Linked DNA regions of Homo sapiens: region 2 is linked to region 1. Evidence: fine-mapped expression QTL. Tissue or cell type: spinal cord. Region 1 holds a variant in brackets; the other region holds the start of a gene. All regions are shown on one strand. Distances are between the middles of the regions.

Evidence for each region. PIP is the estimated chance that this variant, and not a neighbour inherited with it, causes the effect.
Region 2: it holds the start of SPAG9, and the variant in region 1 is fine-mapped to the expression of SPAG9 in spinal cord (GTEx, PIP above 0.99).

Annotation. Positions count from the first base shown.
Region 1 is chr17:50,962,089-50,970,348 of GRCh38, reverse strand. It overlaps SPAG9 (sperm associated antigen 9), which reads left to right. Exons shown (of 30, transcript NM_001130528.3): 30 at 3,962-8,175. The coding sequence ends at 4,077. Among named protein-coding and RNA genes, the nearest start is that of TOB1-AS1, 100 kb to the right of the region's middle. The variant G/A (reference allele first, on the strand shown) is at 4,362.
Region 2 is chr17:51,116,083-51,124,082 of GRCh38, reverse strand. SPAG9 (sperm associated antigen 9) reads left to right here and starts at 3,215. Exons shown (of 30, transcript NM_001130528.3): 1 at 3,215-3,729. The coding sequence starts at 3,427. RefSeq lists enhancers at 1,864-2,123, 2,733-2,962, 2,479-3,293, 3,583-3,702, 7,081-7,180 and 2 more and silencers at 3,103-3,482, 3,733-3,812, 3,833-3,962.

The sequences.
Region 1 (8,260 bases):
AGAGACAAGGTTTCACCATGTTGGCCAGGCTATTCTCAAACTCCTGACCTCAAGTGATCCGCCTGCCTCGGCCTTCCAGCTGGGATTACAAGCCCGAGCCACCGCACCCGGCCCTTGGTATTTCTTTTCATACCAAAATGTATTTGTTTGAAAGGAGCATTAGAAATAGCAGGATGTGGTCAATGTGAAGTTTTATGTGAAAAGCATAGGATTTAGGGTCAGAAGGCCTTGGACAAGTCATTCAACCTCTTAGAGCCTCGGTTTTCTGTCAAAATGGAGAAATAAAAATATTTCTTAAACAACTTCATTTGTTCATTTTCTCACCTAACAAACATTAATTGAGCACCTACTGTGTACCTGTCATTCTTAAACTGGAGATACAGAAACAAATCAGACAAAGCCTTCGTCTAATAGATTATAGAACAGTGCAGAGATAGAGACATGTTAATAAATTAAAATGTTACTGATGCTCTGGTAGTGAGTAGTCAGTTCTTTCCAAGGGTAGGGAGAGAAGGAAGTCAAGAAATGATGCTTGAGGTGACTCAGCACTGCATAGTCTTAGCACAAAGGGTCAGGTTGGGGAATGGGGTGGGGAGGACCAGGGGTTGGCACTCCGAGGTAAGAGAATAGCTTGGCCAAAGGTTTAGAGATATGAAACCATTTTAATGGAAGAAAAACTATTTTAAAATGACAAGAGTGTGGAGTAGAAGAAAGTATGAATTTGTTGTCAAAAGGGAGGGAGGGACTGGAGTATGGGAGGCCTTTACATACCAGATTAAGAAGATTGTACTTTATCTTTCAAGCAAAAGAGAACTATAGGAGCAATGTGATTAGAGTTGTGTGAAGGATGGACTGGAGGTTCAAGACTAGACCTAGGGAAATGAGTTGGGAACAAGTGAATGCCCAAGAAAGGTAGTAACAGTGTGAACAGATAAGAAGCATGATGAGAATGTGGGGAAGGAGAGAATGGGCCATAGAGCTCAGGACTGTCAACAGGAGAAGCAGGTCTGGAGGGACGGAAAGAGGAGTCCAGTGCTGATCATGTTGATCTTGAAGAGCATAGTGGTGATTTAGGTGGGAAATTTCCACTGGGCTTCTGAATATACAGGTCCTCTATCTTAGGAGGGAGGGATTTGGGGGCTGTCAGCATGGAGTGGTACTAAAAGCCATGAGGGTTGGTGAGTTCGCCCAAGGAGCTAAAAGAAAAGGTTCCAGTGGCTAAACCCAGTCTCTAATAAAAATACAAAAATTAGCTGAGCGTGATGCCGTGTACCTGTAATCCCAGCTATTCAGGAGGCTGAGGCAGGAGAATCACTTGAACCCGGGAGGTGGAGGTTGCAGTGAGCCGAGATCACACCACTGCACTCCAGCCTGGGTGACAGAGTGAGACTCCATCTCAAAAAAAGAAAAGAAAGAAAAAGGAAAGGTTCCAGGATAGAACCCTGAATTCATACTCCATTTAAAGATCATTAGAGCTTATGGAGGGATCTGAGAAGGAATGGCCAGAGAGGTACAAAGAAAACATGGAGAACTGATGCTCGTGAAAGAGTAGTGCTTTGTAAATTGTAAGACACTGTACAAATATGTTTATTTATTTGCTATAATTTTTCTTTTTTGAGACAGAGTCTCACACTCTGTCACCCAGGCTGGAGTGCAGTGGCACAATCTTGGCTCACTGCAACCTCCACCTCCCGGTTTCAAGCAATTCTCATGCCTCAGCCTCCCGAGTAGCTGGGATTTCAGGCATGTGCCACCACGCCTGGTTAATTTTTGTATTTTTAGTAGAGACGGGGTTTCACCATGTTGGCCAGGCTGGTCTCGAACTCCTGGCCTCAAACAGTCCACCTGCCTCAGCCTCCCAAAGTGCTGGGATTACAGGCATGAGGCACCGCACCCAGCTTATTTGCTATAAATAAACTGATCCCTTGGACTCGCTTAAAATCTCAGTGCTTCAAAAAGTTCCCAGACATAAGGCAGTAGGCAGTTTGAGAGAATATAATAGTGTTGTAGATCAGTAACAAATACTTTAGATATGAATTCTGTAAAGGAATAAAAAAAAATTAGGGTCATTTAAATGACAATGTGACAAATGTGATTAGTGTCACCAATATCTGATGCAAAAAGTTTGTTGACACTTTTAAGAGGGGAAGGCTGTTAGTGTGAACTTTAGAAATTGATTCCAGGGATGTCAGCAGGAATGGAGTCATTTCAAAGTGTTTTGAATAATTGACTATTGTTGAATTCCCTTTTATGAGAGGAGTTGTTAGGGACTCCACTTGGCTGGGGTGATTTTTGTAACTTTGTGTTGGAGTGCAGTATGTCAGTTGGAACCGTACTGAGGAGTTTGTTAATAAAATCTCTATGTGGTTTTTCCATTTCCACTAAAAATTCCTTCCATTGTGGATCCTGAAAATAGAACAAAAATTGCTTAACCAGGTTTGGCAGTATCTCTAGTTATTTCCAGCCTGAAAAACAGACTTGTCTTTAGCATAGGCTAATTTTAATAGTGAATATACTGTTGTAAAAAATCAAATTTGATCTTTTTTGGGGGTCCATTTCCTTTTTCATTTCCTGTAATATTTTAACAGTGAGAAATTGATTCTAAAGTCCCATATTTTTAATGATTTAAACTTAAAACTTAGGCTGTAGAGACCCTAGCAGACAGGATAATTTTCTTACAAGTAAAATCTTCAGAACAACTCAGAAGAGAAATGGCGACAGCCTTTTGTCTCAGCCAGTTAATTTTTTTCATTGAAATTTTTTAAAATTTAAGAGCCAAACTTAATTTTTTTACCTTCTAACCACCTGGGTATGTTTCAGTTCAGAGATGGGAGTTTGAACTGAGTGTTCTCCTCTCTCTAGTTTGATATTGCTGTGAAAAGGCCATTACAGGGCTGGGTAAGGGAAAGTTTGGCCTGCAGAGAAAAATGCAGATATTTAGGGTTTTTTCTCTTCTGTTGTTTCTAGTCAACAGTATCAATATTTTCTTTTGTCCAGCTGAAATTCACATGGGGCACATTACAAAATTCTGTTAGATCAGTGGAATATATCTTTAGGTCCTGTGGTGTGTATGTTTTTAGGATTCTGCTGAAGAATCCATCCCACTAGACAACTTTTCACTGGGTTGTGCCAAAATAACCCTGCTCTGTGACAACAGATACAATTGATGCAAGCTTGTATCGAGAATTATGGTATGCCCTGCACTGGGTCTTATGGAGAGGAGTGTGGTGTACCCCAGACTGGGCCTTGGAAGCCAGTGTCTGATCAGGACACCATGGATCACATTCACTTAGCCGTGATGCAGAAGAACCTGTATCTTGGCTGCTACCCCAACCTCTTTGTTTCTCCTTTTCCATTATACACTGTTAATTTGTAACCTATCCTAAACTTGAAAATCATTGGAAGAAAAACCCAGTAGCTGGTGAATCTGCCATCTGCAGTGCTGCAGGCTAATTATTTTAATTTCCATATGCTTGTGTCAATTATCTTCAATTGGAGAACATTACACCTGTCATTGATAATTGTGAGTTATTTGGGTTTAGTTAGTTTGCTCTGTACCTGTGCTCACGCATTTTATAACACTATTCTCAGTTCTTAGTTTAAAATAAGTGACAGTAGACTCTTCATTTTGGATGAACACAGAATTGCCTTCTTAGCTTCCCATGTCTGGACCATCGGTATGCAGACATGTTGGGGTGGCTTTTTAACGTAGTATAGTGAACTGGATTTTATAAATACAGTCTGAAAAATGAATTAACCTTTTCTGAAGTCAAGCAGTGGCTTGGGTGAATATGGGTGAGGATTCTGACTCTTAGTATTTCTTCTACTATTTACTCTCCAGTGAAAGTCAGACAAGTTTTGGGCATCTTGTTCATGGACTAACCACGAGCATTACATCTGACTCACATCATTCTATATTTTATGTGTTCAGCCTAACTTGAGTCTTCTTATCATTCACTAGGTGATGAAGGTGGAGAATCAGAACTTCTTGGAGAGGATCTTCCACTTGAACCTTCTGTCACCAAAGCAGAAAGGAGTCACTTGATAGTGTGGCAAGTGATGTATGGCAATGAGTGAGCCCATGGGAAACAGGTGGAGATGGGGAAGCCGTCTCTTCTGCATGGTTTATTTTCCCTCTATCCTTTTATTTAATGCTCTTTTGTGAGATAAGTTTCACCACATAATGTGTGAGCATTTTTTCCTGTTAACTTTATATTACAAAATCCGTTCTACCATAACAATACAGAGGAACTAGCTGTGTTACTGCACCAGTGTTATAGGTAACTTCAGTATATTATGAACAAATCAAAGAATGTTTACTTCCTGCAAACTGGTGAATTATAGAAAGCAATCCAGATGTG[G/A]TTTACTCTGCCACAGTCTAATGTCATTCACTTCATTTGATGGGGTCACTTGTTAGCTGTCACTAATAATGGAATTAATGGGAAACACTTGATAAATGAAACTGTACCGTTAAATACAATAGCTGAGTTTTCCCCAGTGTATTGTAAAATTGACACACACTAATACAAGATGGATTATCAGGATGTATCTAAATGTCCCGAGAGGGTTAAAAGCTAACTGTAAATTACTTTAACTTTCACTTTCAAATCTGACAAATCTTGTTTATATGGTATATAAAACTTTGTTTTCATCAGATTTGGGGGGGTTTTATATTAAAGAAATTAAGACTACACTATTTAAATAAACGTTTCCTGTTTCTGACTTATTAGAGCTCTAAAGTTTATGAGGCCTACTTCTCTGAATATTCTGATGGGTTTTTTTTGAGACCAGTCTCATTTTCATACTGACATGTCTGAAAGATTTATTATTTATAAAGCTTAGGACATACTCTGGGAAGCTTAGAAGATACTTCAGCACTGGGAGGATTTTTTAAAGGAAATGTGTTTTGTATTTCTTGTACCAGAGAATGGTGATGTTGATTGAGTTTTTTCCATGTAAAAAATGTACTTGTTTGCCAAATGTTCCTAGATTGCTCTTAACCTGTTAATACAAGTAAAACTGTAGTGGGGATGGAGTCTGGCCTAAGTACAGAATGAGGGATTTAATTAGAAAAGTTATTTTCTTTTGTTCTGTATCAAACTGCAGAACAGCTATATACTTGGTATTTTGTACGTGAATAACGTTTTAGCTTTTGTGCCCTTTTGAGCTTGAAGGGTTATCCTCAAAGGGGAAAACTATGAAGGGGAAGAAGACAAACCTAAGATACCATAAAGTAAAGGTTGACATTACATATTTTCATTCACAATGCCCATTAAAAAAAAAAAATAGGTTGGGCATGGTGGCTCACGCCTGTAATCCCAACACTTTAGGAGGCTGAGGCAGATGGATTGCTTGAGCCCAGGAGTTCAAGACCAGCCTGGGCAACATGGCGAAACCCTGTCTCTACCAAAAAAAAAAAACAAAATAAATTAACCGGGTGTGGTGGCACATGCCTGTAGTCCCAGCTACTTGGGAGGCTGAGGTGGGAGGATGACCTGGGCCCAGGAGGTGGAGGTTGCAGTGAGCCTTGATAGCACCACTGCACTCCAGCCTGGGTGACGGAGCAAGACCCTGTCTCAAAACAGACAAACAAGCAAAAAATAGATTAAAGTCTGGATTTCACTGATTTTCTTGCTTAATAAGTTTTTTAAAACCACGATGCTGCAATTTTTTCCCTCTCAAGCTTCTTGAAAATGTGTGATTTACCCTTTTTTATCTATTACTCTAGGCAAAGCTAAATATGATTTTTTTTTTTTTTTTTGAGACGGAGTCTGGCTCTGTTGCCCAGGCTGGAATGCAGTGGTGCGATCTCAGCTCACTGCAACCTCCACCTCTCAGGTTCAAGTAGTTCTCCTGCCTCAGCCTCCCAAGTAGCTGGGATTACAGGTGTGTGCCACCCTGCCCAGCTAATTTTTGTATTTTTAGTAGAGACAGGGTTTCACCACATTGGCCAGGCTGGTCTCAAACTCCTGACCTCAGATGATCTACCCGCCTTGGCCTCCCGAAGTGCTTGAATTACAGGCGTGAGCCCCCGCGCCGGTCCGAAGCAAAGCTAAATGTAATTTTATGTACTGTTTTAACAGTATAAACCTATGGGATAAAGGCCCCCAATCATCAGAAGGACTACTGAAAAGAAAAGAAAGCAAACGTAGATGTCAAATTGTCTAAACATTCTTAAGTACCACTGATTTTTTTTTTCTGGACTATTATACAAAGATGTCTGTAAAAAGTATACCAGTGGCTTTTATGCATATACACGATTAGGCTAGATTGTGAAGTACATGGGATTTCATGAGCCAGAGGAGGCATTTGGATCCATTGGGCCACATGTGACTATAAGCACATTGTGTACACAATAAAATTGTAGCCACTCATGTATTAAAACTGTTTTGGTAAAAGCTGTATTAAAAGAATAATTTTTTGCTTGAGCTACTTAGTCACTTTTTTGCAGGGCACCAAAATGTAGGCTACTTTTCCATAGCTTGTTTGCTATGTTTTTATTTCATCTTAAATCTGAGCCATTTTTGGCAATATCTTTTAAAAAATCATTATTAAACATTTATTGGAAATGTTGTATAGATTCACAAGAAAGAGACACCAAAGTGTTTGGGAATTTTAATCCCAAGAAGTAAACATCCCAGAGTCAGATCCCATTTGCTGTTGTTCAGCCATGTTTGTATGACTGAATGTAATTTAGGAAATCAGGAGTTAGAGATGAAAAATACAAACATGTCAAATGGTTGTAATTGCTTTTTTTGAACTTACTGGCTTTAACTTAAGTAATATAGGTGTGTAGTTGTTTTATCTAAAGATGTCAGATTATCTGTGGCCCTGTTAATTAACTGCAGGGACCAGAGAGAGGACAAAAATGCCTGTATAATTTGCTTTAAAGGCTTGTCCTTATGTTTGTAATTTCAGTTAAATATTTTCTACAGATTGCTTCACTTCCCCTTTCCCCCAATAACAAGTTCATATTCTTGTAATGTTTACTTTGGTCAACGTGGTAATTTTTGGAAGAAAATGCCAAAATGTAAGCTTCTCACAAGCAGCAAAGGAATGTAACTGCCTGTAGCTACCACATCAAGGGAGAGAAGAGGCTTGCGTACTTTGGGTTGATCTCACTGTACAAAAAAAGTGTACCCCTATTGGAAGAAATAAGGAATACTTGAAGGTTTCTCCTTTTTTTACACTTGAGTCATGTGCAAGGTTGAACCATATGAAATTGCCAGTGTTCAACCATTGCTGATCTGCAAAAGCGACAATATCATATGCCTCAACCTAACACTTACTCTTAAATGCAGGTTAAAATCTCTGTGAGGCAAAGGGATAATATTCTCTAGGAACTCACTTTTGAGAGTATTTTTCTCTAACCCATGTGGATCTAAATTTTAAAAATAGGAATGAATCTCTTAATTGCAGCTTGTGGAGAGTATAAAACATTTTGAGCACAATATGCAGCACATAACTTTTCAGATTGTGTTTGCATAGAAAAGGTTAAAATCAATTCTTTCAGTTACTGTATTGTTCATTTCTTGTAAAGGTCTTCCTACATTTGAGACGAGACCCTTTAACATAGGCTGCCTTAGTAACAAAATAAAACAGATGTGTCATAATATTAACTGTCCTAAAGAACATGTGTCTTGCAAATGCCATGGAACTGAATATTTATTTCCTTGTGAGTATTATGACCGTTACCAAAGGACTCAACCAGATTTAGGGCTCTTCTTAATTGATCATGTTCAGAAAGGGACTCATTTGGTCCCACTTTGTAACATGGGAAGAGTAGAAGAGAAAATTAAATGTGGAAATCATAAATGCTTTTCTAACAGGGTTATGCTATTCTGTAACACTAAATGTCTGTCTTTTCTCTTAAAAGATTAAGTTTTATTAATTTTGTCATACATTTCTCTATTTGAATATATCTTAACCATTTTATGTTCCAAATTCGTTTTTTGTCCAAGACATTCTATCAGAATTTTACTTGCCTCTATAATCTGAAAAATGGGTTCTAGAATGTCCCACTTGCTGTCTCTTAGAGGCTGAGCTTCATTTCTATGAGCAAAGAGCTCATTTAGCAATGTAGTTATTTCAGTATTTATTTCTATTATGGAATCCCTGGGGTTCAGAATGTAACTTTGTACATGAGATATATATAAATATGTATATGAACATGTATGAGGTCTAGTGTGTTTTGTTTTGTTTTTACCGTTCCTGGGGATCTGAACTTGGTTTTTATTTGCAAGTCCAATAATCTTCCCCA
Region 2 (8,000 bases), 150 kb before region 1:
GTGGTCCTTTGTGACTGACTTCTTTCACTTAGCTTTTTCAAGATTCAGCTGTATCTCTGGGCATGGTGGCTCACGCCTGTAATCCCAGCACTTTGGGAGGCCAAGGTGGGTGGATCACCTGAGGTCAGGAGTTTGAGATCAGCCTGGCTAACGTAGTGAAACCCTGTTTCTACTAAAAATACAAAAAATTAGCCGGGTGTGGTGGCGCACACCTGTAATCCCAGCTACTCGGGAGGCTGAGGCAGGAGAATCGCTTGAACTTGGGAGGCGGAGGTTTCGGTGAGCTGAGGTTGCACCATTGCACTCCAGCTTAGGCAACAAGAGCGAAATTCCATCTCAAAAAAAAAAAAAAGATTCAGCTATGTCATGGCATGTACTTAAAATTTTTGTTTTCTTTTCTATTCTTTTTTTTTTTTTTTGGAGACGGAGTTTTGCTCTTGTTGCCCAGGCTGGAGTGCAATGGCTCGATCTTGGCTCACCACAACCTCCGCCTCCCAGGTTCAAGCGATTCTCCTGCCTCAGCCTCCTGAGTAGCTAAGAATACAGGTGCGGGCCACCACGCCCGGCTAATTTTGTATTTTTAGTAGATACAGGGTTTCTCCATATTGGTCAGGCTGATCTTGAACATCTGACCTCTGACCTCAGGTGATCCGCCCGCCTCGACCTCCCAAAGTGCTGGGAGTACAGGTGTAAGCCACCGTGCCTGGCCAAAAAAAATTTTTTTTTTTTTTTTTGTCAGGGATGAAGGTCTCACTATGTTGCCCAGGCTGGTCTCCAACTCATGGCACAAGCCATCCTCTTGCAAGTGCTGAGATTACAGGCGCGAGCCACCACGCCTACTCCCCTCCCCTCCAACGACTTTCTTTTTATTGCCAAATAATAGTCCATTGTATACCTATGTCACATTTTATCCATTCATCAGCTGATGGTTATTTAGCTGAATTTTATTTTAACTAAATGTTATCTCTGATAACTGGCAGAAGCTTAAAATCAAGACATAAGTGTGTATCTTTCTATGTTGAACGTATACCTAAAGAAGTATACTTATTAGGAATGACAATTAAAATCTCGTACTTGAAAAATCGATACTTTTTTCTTTTTTCTTTTTTTTTTTGAGATGGAGTCTCACTCTGTCGCCCAGGCTGGAGTGCAATGGTGTGATCTCTGCTCACTGCAACCTCCGCCTCCCAGGTTCAAGCTATTCTCCTGCCTCAGCCTCTTGAGTAGCTGGGATTATAGGTGTGCACCACCATGCCCGACTAATTTTTGTACTTTTTAGTAGAAATGGGGTTTCACCATATTGTTCAGGCTGGTCTTGAACTCCTGACCTTGTGATCCACCCGCCTCGGCCTCCCAAAGTGCTGGGTTACAGGCATGAGTCACCACGCCCGGCTGATACTTTTTTCTTTAAATTTTTTGATGTGTATGATAATATTGTGGAAAGAAAAAGTAAAGCCTTGCCCTATGTTTTTTGGCTCTTCTGATCCCCCAGGAAAAGAGAGGCATGCATATAGGTAGACCAGGTGAGTGACAGCCCTCAGGAAGAGAAAATAAAAGAGGAGAGATTCAGATCAAGACTTTTTCTAGTTTTCAAATATGAAAGGTTAAGAAGAGAAAGGGCATTTGCGGCTCACAGCCAACCAGCTGGTCGGCATTCCTACTACCCAAATATCTAAATGACATAAGGGTGAATGTGGGGTGAGGGTGAGAACGGGAAAAAACACAGGCCGCAAATTCAGTCCCATCTGGCACTTCATAAGACTTAGTATTTTCATCTTTGTCCTTCCAAATTTATAGGTTTACTCTTGCCCAACCTTCATATTGTTTTTATGGGTCTCCAGGTGGGTCATGCGTAGGAAACTTTAGGGGACTACTTCATACTTGGTGGGAAGTACTTAAACTTGTAAACCCCAAGCTAAGGGTAGTTATGATCCCGGTGGGTGGCCAATTCTCCCCTTAAACCTATGTTTATCCTGCCTTTCCTCCCCCTTTTCTTAAACGAGTCGGGACGGAGAGCTGAGTCACCTGAGACACAGAGAAGGGACTTTTGAGAGTGTCTTCCGTCCCATTTGCGGACGTTAGATGAGCACACCGGGATCCTTGACTCAGCCCGCTCTAGGCGTGGGCGTTGTGTCATTCCCCACACGTGACACTCTCCCAGGCGGCAGAAACCTCACTTGTCATGGGACTTATTCACTCCAGTGACTCCACCCCTTACCTCCTCTGTTCCCCAACCTCCCACTTACCCTTTCCGCCCCACTTCAAGACTTGAGGAGAGGAGGGTGGCTGGAGCCTGGAAATGTCCCCGTCCCAAGTTGGCCAGAAGTAGCAGACACACTATGTGGGAAAGTGCCACATGTAACGTTCCAGTTTCACCCTTCTCCAGAATGCTATCACCCTTCCTGTTTATTTTTTAATAACTTGAGATATAATTCACACGCCATATGATTCACTCACTTAACGTGTAAAGTTGAATGTCTTTTAGCATATTTAGAGTTGTGTATTCATCACTATAATACATTTTTTAGAACATTTTTATTATCCCAAAACGAAATCCCATACCTATTAGCAGTCACTCCCATTTCCCCTCATCTCACCCTTGCTCTTCCATAGCACAAAACAGTTCTATTCTATTCGAGACCACCTTTCCACTTGGGCAGACCCTGGTTATGGTTTTTTTTCCCTCCCTTTCTGTTTCCAGTTTTTTTCGGAGCCCGGAATTCTCAATCTGGGTAATTGGTTTGAGTCCCGGCTCAGCCCGTTTCCCGTTGTAGCTGCGTGACCTTGAGAGCAACGCCACTTTCCTGGGCCTAGTTTCTTTGTCTGTGAAACGAGGTCCAAATATCTACCTCTTTACGCCTGTTGTGGGGATGAAGTGAGTAGGTGCTTTGTGAGCTTTAAAAAGCCATAGAAATGCCAGCTAAGTTAACTCGTCACTCTTCCCGAACCCCTCCCTTTCCCCTGGGACCCGCCCCGCGAATCCCGCTGTGGATGGATACTTCTCCCCACCCGCCGACCGCAGTCTTTCCCATTGGCGCCCGCACCGTCTTCGCGGCGCCGGGTGTTGACGCCATGGCTTCCTCCGCCAGCGCCCGAAGACGCTTGGCCCCGCCCCCGGCCGCGCCTGGCCTCCCGCGGCGCCCCGCCCATCGGGCCGACGCGGCGCCGGCCCCGCCCCGCGGATGACGTGTGGCGCGCGCGGCCGGGCCGCCCCGGCAGTTGGTGCAGCGGCGGTTGGGGTGAGAGCGCCTACGCCACCCCTCCCCTCCTCCGGCCCCGGCCCCCACCCCGCCGGGCCCAGCCCCAGCCCCGGCCCGGGCTCCAGCCCTAGTACCCGTCCCAGCCCGAGTCGGGTCCGTCCCGTGCGGGCAGGTGCCGCCCCTCTGCCGGCGACGCCCCGGGCCGCCCGCCCGTCCGCTTGCCACCATGGAGCTGGAGGACGGTGTGGTGTATCAGGAGGAGCCCGGCGGCTCCGGGGCCGTGATGTCGGAGCGGGTGTCCGGCCTGGCCGGCTCCATCTACCGCGAGTTCGAGCGGCTTATCGGGCGCTATGACGAGGAGGTGGTCAAAGAGCTGATGCCGCTGGTGGTGGCTGTGCTGGAGAACCTGGACTCGGTGTTCGCGCAGGACCAGGAGCACCAGGTGGAGCTGGAGCTGCTGCGGGACGACAACGAGCAGCTCATCACCCAGTACGAGCGGGAGAAGGCGCTGCGCAAGCACGCTGAGGAGGTGAGGCCGGCGGCAGGGCGGGGGCCGCGGGATCCGTCTCCGGGGGCGGCCGGGGCGGGGTCGCGGCCCGGTCGGGGACTAGAGGCGCGACGGGCCTCCTGGAGGGCGGGCCTGAGGCCGATGCCCCCTGGGACCGATCCCGGCGGCCTCCAGGTACCCCGGGAGCCAGGCCGGCGTTGGAAGCCGAGGCCGGCTACTGAGTGTCCTGGGAAGGGAGCGAGATGGAGGAGGCAGGGCCCGGGGAGGAAGCGGCAGCCTGGCCTGAGGACACCTGGGGTTGGCCAAGGGCGGAGATTGTTGGGTGTCTGGTTGCTTCTTGTTGAGGGAAGTTTCCGACCACCGTGGGATAGTCAGATGGCGGTTCAAAGTTTTACCCTTGGGGAGGGGGACACTTCTGCCCTGGATATGTAACTTCCGCTAGTTCCAGTACCTTTCCAGGGGGTTGCCTTGCTTTGGGAAGTTAGAGATCTCCCTCTTTCGGTCAGTTTCTTCTTGACGTTTTAATCTTGTTGAGAAAGACGTCTTATTTTATGTTCTATGTGCCTTGGTTGACACTTTGTCAACTTTTAGATGTTGTGTGGCAGTACTCAATAAATATATAAACAATTTCGTTGGTATCCCAAACCAAAGCATTCCTCCGTATCAGGTTGTAACCTTGGACAGTTCCCTTCAAAAACCCTCCGTTTATTTATAAAAAGGATTGGGGGGCGGGGTTGGGAAGATGTAGGTGACAGTTGGCAACACTTTTTCCGTCTGAGTTTCCTTCTTAGACTGCTGTTTATACGTGCATTTGGCCACCTGTTAACTCTAGCACCCGAGCAGTGACCTGGGCGCCCTCACCTCGACTCTGTGAACCTTTTGGAGTTCTAGGGTGCAAGTGATAGGTCCTTGGCTTCTTGAGACTGACAAGGAGTTTAGCTTTCAGCCTGCGTTGGCGTTATTTCTGTGGACCTTATCAAAGGCAGGTGATGTGTCCTATTTTTGTTTCTCAAGCACCTAGCACACCTGCTTAAATACATGGTGATCAAAGGAGGCGAAATAACTAATTATTGAAGGAATGACATAGTATTTTTCAAAAAGACTTGAAGAGTTTTTAGGATGTGAGGTTTGTAGCTCATTTCCTGACACTGAATAGTAACACCATTAAATTTTTGTTTTATTTTGTCACGTATACCTTTGCATCTGGTTAAATAGTTCTTTTTCCTTTTTTAAAAGCTTGACTGTAGTGATGATTTTTAGTTCTGATTGTGGGATCCAATTTTCTCAAAGGAATGCTATTGAATTTGCCAAACAAAATTGCCTTTTTTTTTTTTTTTTTTTGAGACGTAGTCTCACTCTGTCGCCCAGGGTGAAGTGCAGTGGAGTGATCTTGGCTCACTGCAACCTCTGCCTGCCGGGTTCAAGCGATTCTTGTGCCTCAGCTTCCTAAGGAGCTAGGACAACACTCCCCGCTCATTTTTGTTTTTTGTAGAGACAGGATTTCTCCATGGTGCCTAGGATGGTCTTGAACTCCTGGCCTCAAGTGATCTGCCCACTTTGGCCTCGGGCTGACCATCCCAGTGCTGGGATTACAGGCATGAGCCACCGCACCCCGCCAGAATGGACTATTTCAAGAGCTTTTCCTTTCATATAGGGAAGGAAGGGATGAAAAACCAAATAATGATAGGATCACAATTTCCGCTTGTTTGTTAGCACTCTTTATAGAACAGAGGTCAAGTGCTACTTGCTGCTTCATGCTCATATAGCCCCTTGCCAGTGTGTGGATATACATGGAAGTGACTGGGAATTAACCACATGTACACACAGGTGACAAGCAAGCCTGACATGACCTTTTACCTCACGTAAAATAAATGCTCCCTCCAGCCTTAAACTCCTGTCAGTCCGTGTAAATATGGGCAAAATGCCAGGGTCACACGTGCCAAGAAAACCATCTGCCACAGGTTGCAGAATCAGAAAACAAAATTGCCCGACTGCTAGACTCTGGGTTCCCTATTAATTTCTTGAGTAAATGACTCTAAAAAAAATAGGTTATCCAATGAATTTATTTGTAGTTTATATTTTTTCAGTTACATCTGTAAATTCTCCATAGTGAAACCATTGGGCAAAGGGTCATGACCTGAGAACAGAGAACATTTATGAAATGCTAAATGAGCCCACTCCCAGGCCACAAACATAAACACACCTTGTTATCAGTTTTCTTTTCTCTTTTTTTTTTTTTTTGAGACAGAGTCTCTCTCTGTCGCCAGGCTGGAGTGCAGTGGCACGATCTCGGCTCACTGCCTCCCGGGTTCAAGCAATTCTTCTGCCTCAGCCGCCCGAGTAGCTGGGACTATAGGCACGTGCCACCCCGCCCAGCTAATATGTATATATATTTTGTATTTTAGTAGAGACGGGGTTTCACCTTGTTGCCCAGGCTGGTCTTGAACTCCTGAGCTCAGGCAATCCACTCGCCTCAGCCTCCCAAAGTACTGGGATTACAGATGTGAGCCACCACACCCGGCCATCAGTTTTCACATAAGATCATAAATTGTGTGTTGCTCAGTATCCAGAAATTGTCTCCCTTTGGCCAATATGTAGAGTGAATTCTGTGTTTAGTTTTCTGTGAGTGCTTTGTTTGCGCCTTTTTTTTTTTTTTTTTTTTTTTTGAGACGGAGTCTTGCTCTGTCACCCAGGCTGGAGTGCAGTGGCACAATCTTGACTCACTGCAGCCTCCGCCTCCCGGGTTCAAGCGATTCTGCCTCAGCCTCTTGAGTAGCTGGGATTACAAGCACGTGCCACCACGCCTGGCTAATTTTTTTGTATTTTTGGTAGAGACGGGGTTTCACCATTTTAGCCAGGATAGTCTCAATCTCCTGACCTCGTGATCTGCCCGCCTCAGCCTCCCAAAGTGCTGGGATTACAGGCATGAGCCACCGTGCCGGCCTGTTTGTGTCTTTAATGCGGAGACCAAGAGTCTTTTATACCAAAGTAAGTGCCTCAGGGTATTTACAGCAAAAGTGATTTGAAAGCATGGAAATTATCCATCACCAGAGAGAGTAAAGTAAATTCTGAGCACCTCTGTGGAAACTTAGGTGGGTATGTAGATAGAATGTTTTAGGAATGTGTGAGGTGCTATGATCTCTTGCTTGCAGGAATTCTCAGCAAGGCATCAAAAATTTAATCTTTATATTGATAGGACATATTTTGAATACCTTCTGACTTTTTCCTTTGCTTTTATTTGAATTTCTAGTGTGGAGCTAGTCTGCTGTTTTAGGGATTCTTTAAAAACAACCTAAAGAAGGGCTAATTTTAGATAGATTTGGACCGGTTTCAGATGCTAATCAAGAAATCTGTCATCTTATCGCCCATCACTCTCTCCTTTGGGCTGCCTGTGACACACCTCTCCATTCTTTAACCAAGACCCGTCTGATGCCTTTGCCCATGCTCTAGAATGCTCTCCTTAGAATTTTACATAGCTAGCTCCTCACTTTCTACTCTGTTTCAATTTCACTTTTTCAGCCAGAACATCCTGTTGACTCTATCCAGAATAAGCCCTGTGAACCTATTGAATAATTTATTTTAAAATCAGTGACTTTTAAATTTAAATTCTTTTTGGAGACAGAGTCTCAATCGCCTAGGCTGGGGTGTAGTGGCACAGTCACAGTTCACTGCAGCCTCAATCTCTTGGGCTCAAGTGATCCTCTTGCCTCAGCCTCCTGAGTAGCTAGGACCACAGACATGCGTTACCACACTGGGCTAATTAAATTTTTTACAGAGACAAGGTCTCACTGTGTTGCCCAGTCTGGTCTGGAACTCCTGGGCTCAAGTGATCCTCCTGCCTTGTGGATCCTGCCAAAGTGTTGGGACTTACAGGGGTGAGCCACTGTGCCCCAGCCCAGTGATTTTTTAAAATAAAAATCTGGATACAAAATGATCTGGAGAGAGAGGTTATAACTGGGTATGTTAGGGTTTTTCTGCAACTTCTGATTCTTTTAAAACAGGCATGATTTGCTGTAACTTTTAAAAAAGGGCCAGGTGTGGTGGCTCACATCTATAGTCCCAGCACTTTGGGAGGCCGAGGCAGATGGATCACTTGAGGTCAGGAGTGTGGGACCAGCCTCGCCAACATGATGAAACCCTGTCTGTACTAAAAATACAAAAATTATCTGGGTGTGGTGGTGGGTGCCTGTAATCCCAGCTACTGGGGAGGCTGATGCAGAAGAATTGCTTGAACCCGGGAGATGGAGGTTGCAGTGAGCTGGGATCGTGCCTCTGTACTCCAGCCTGGGCAG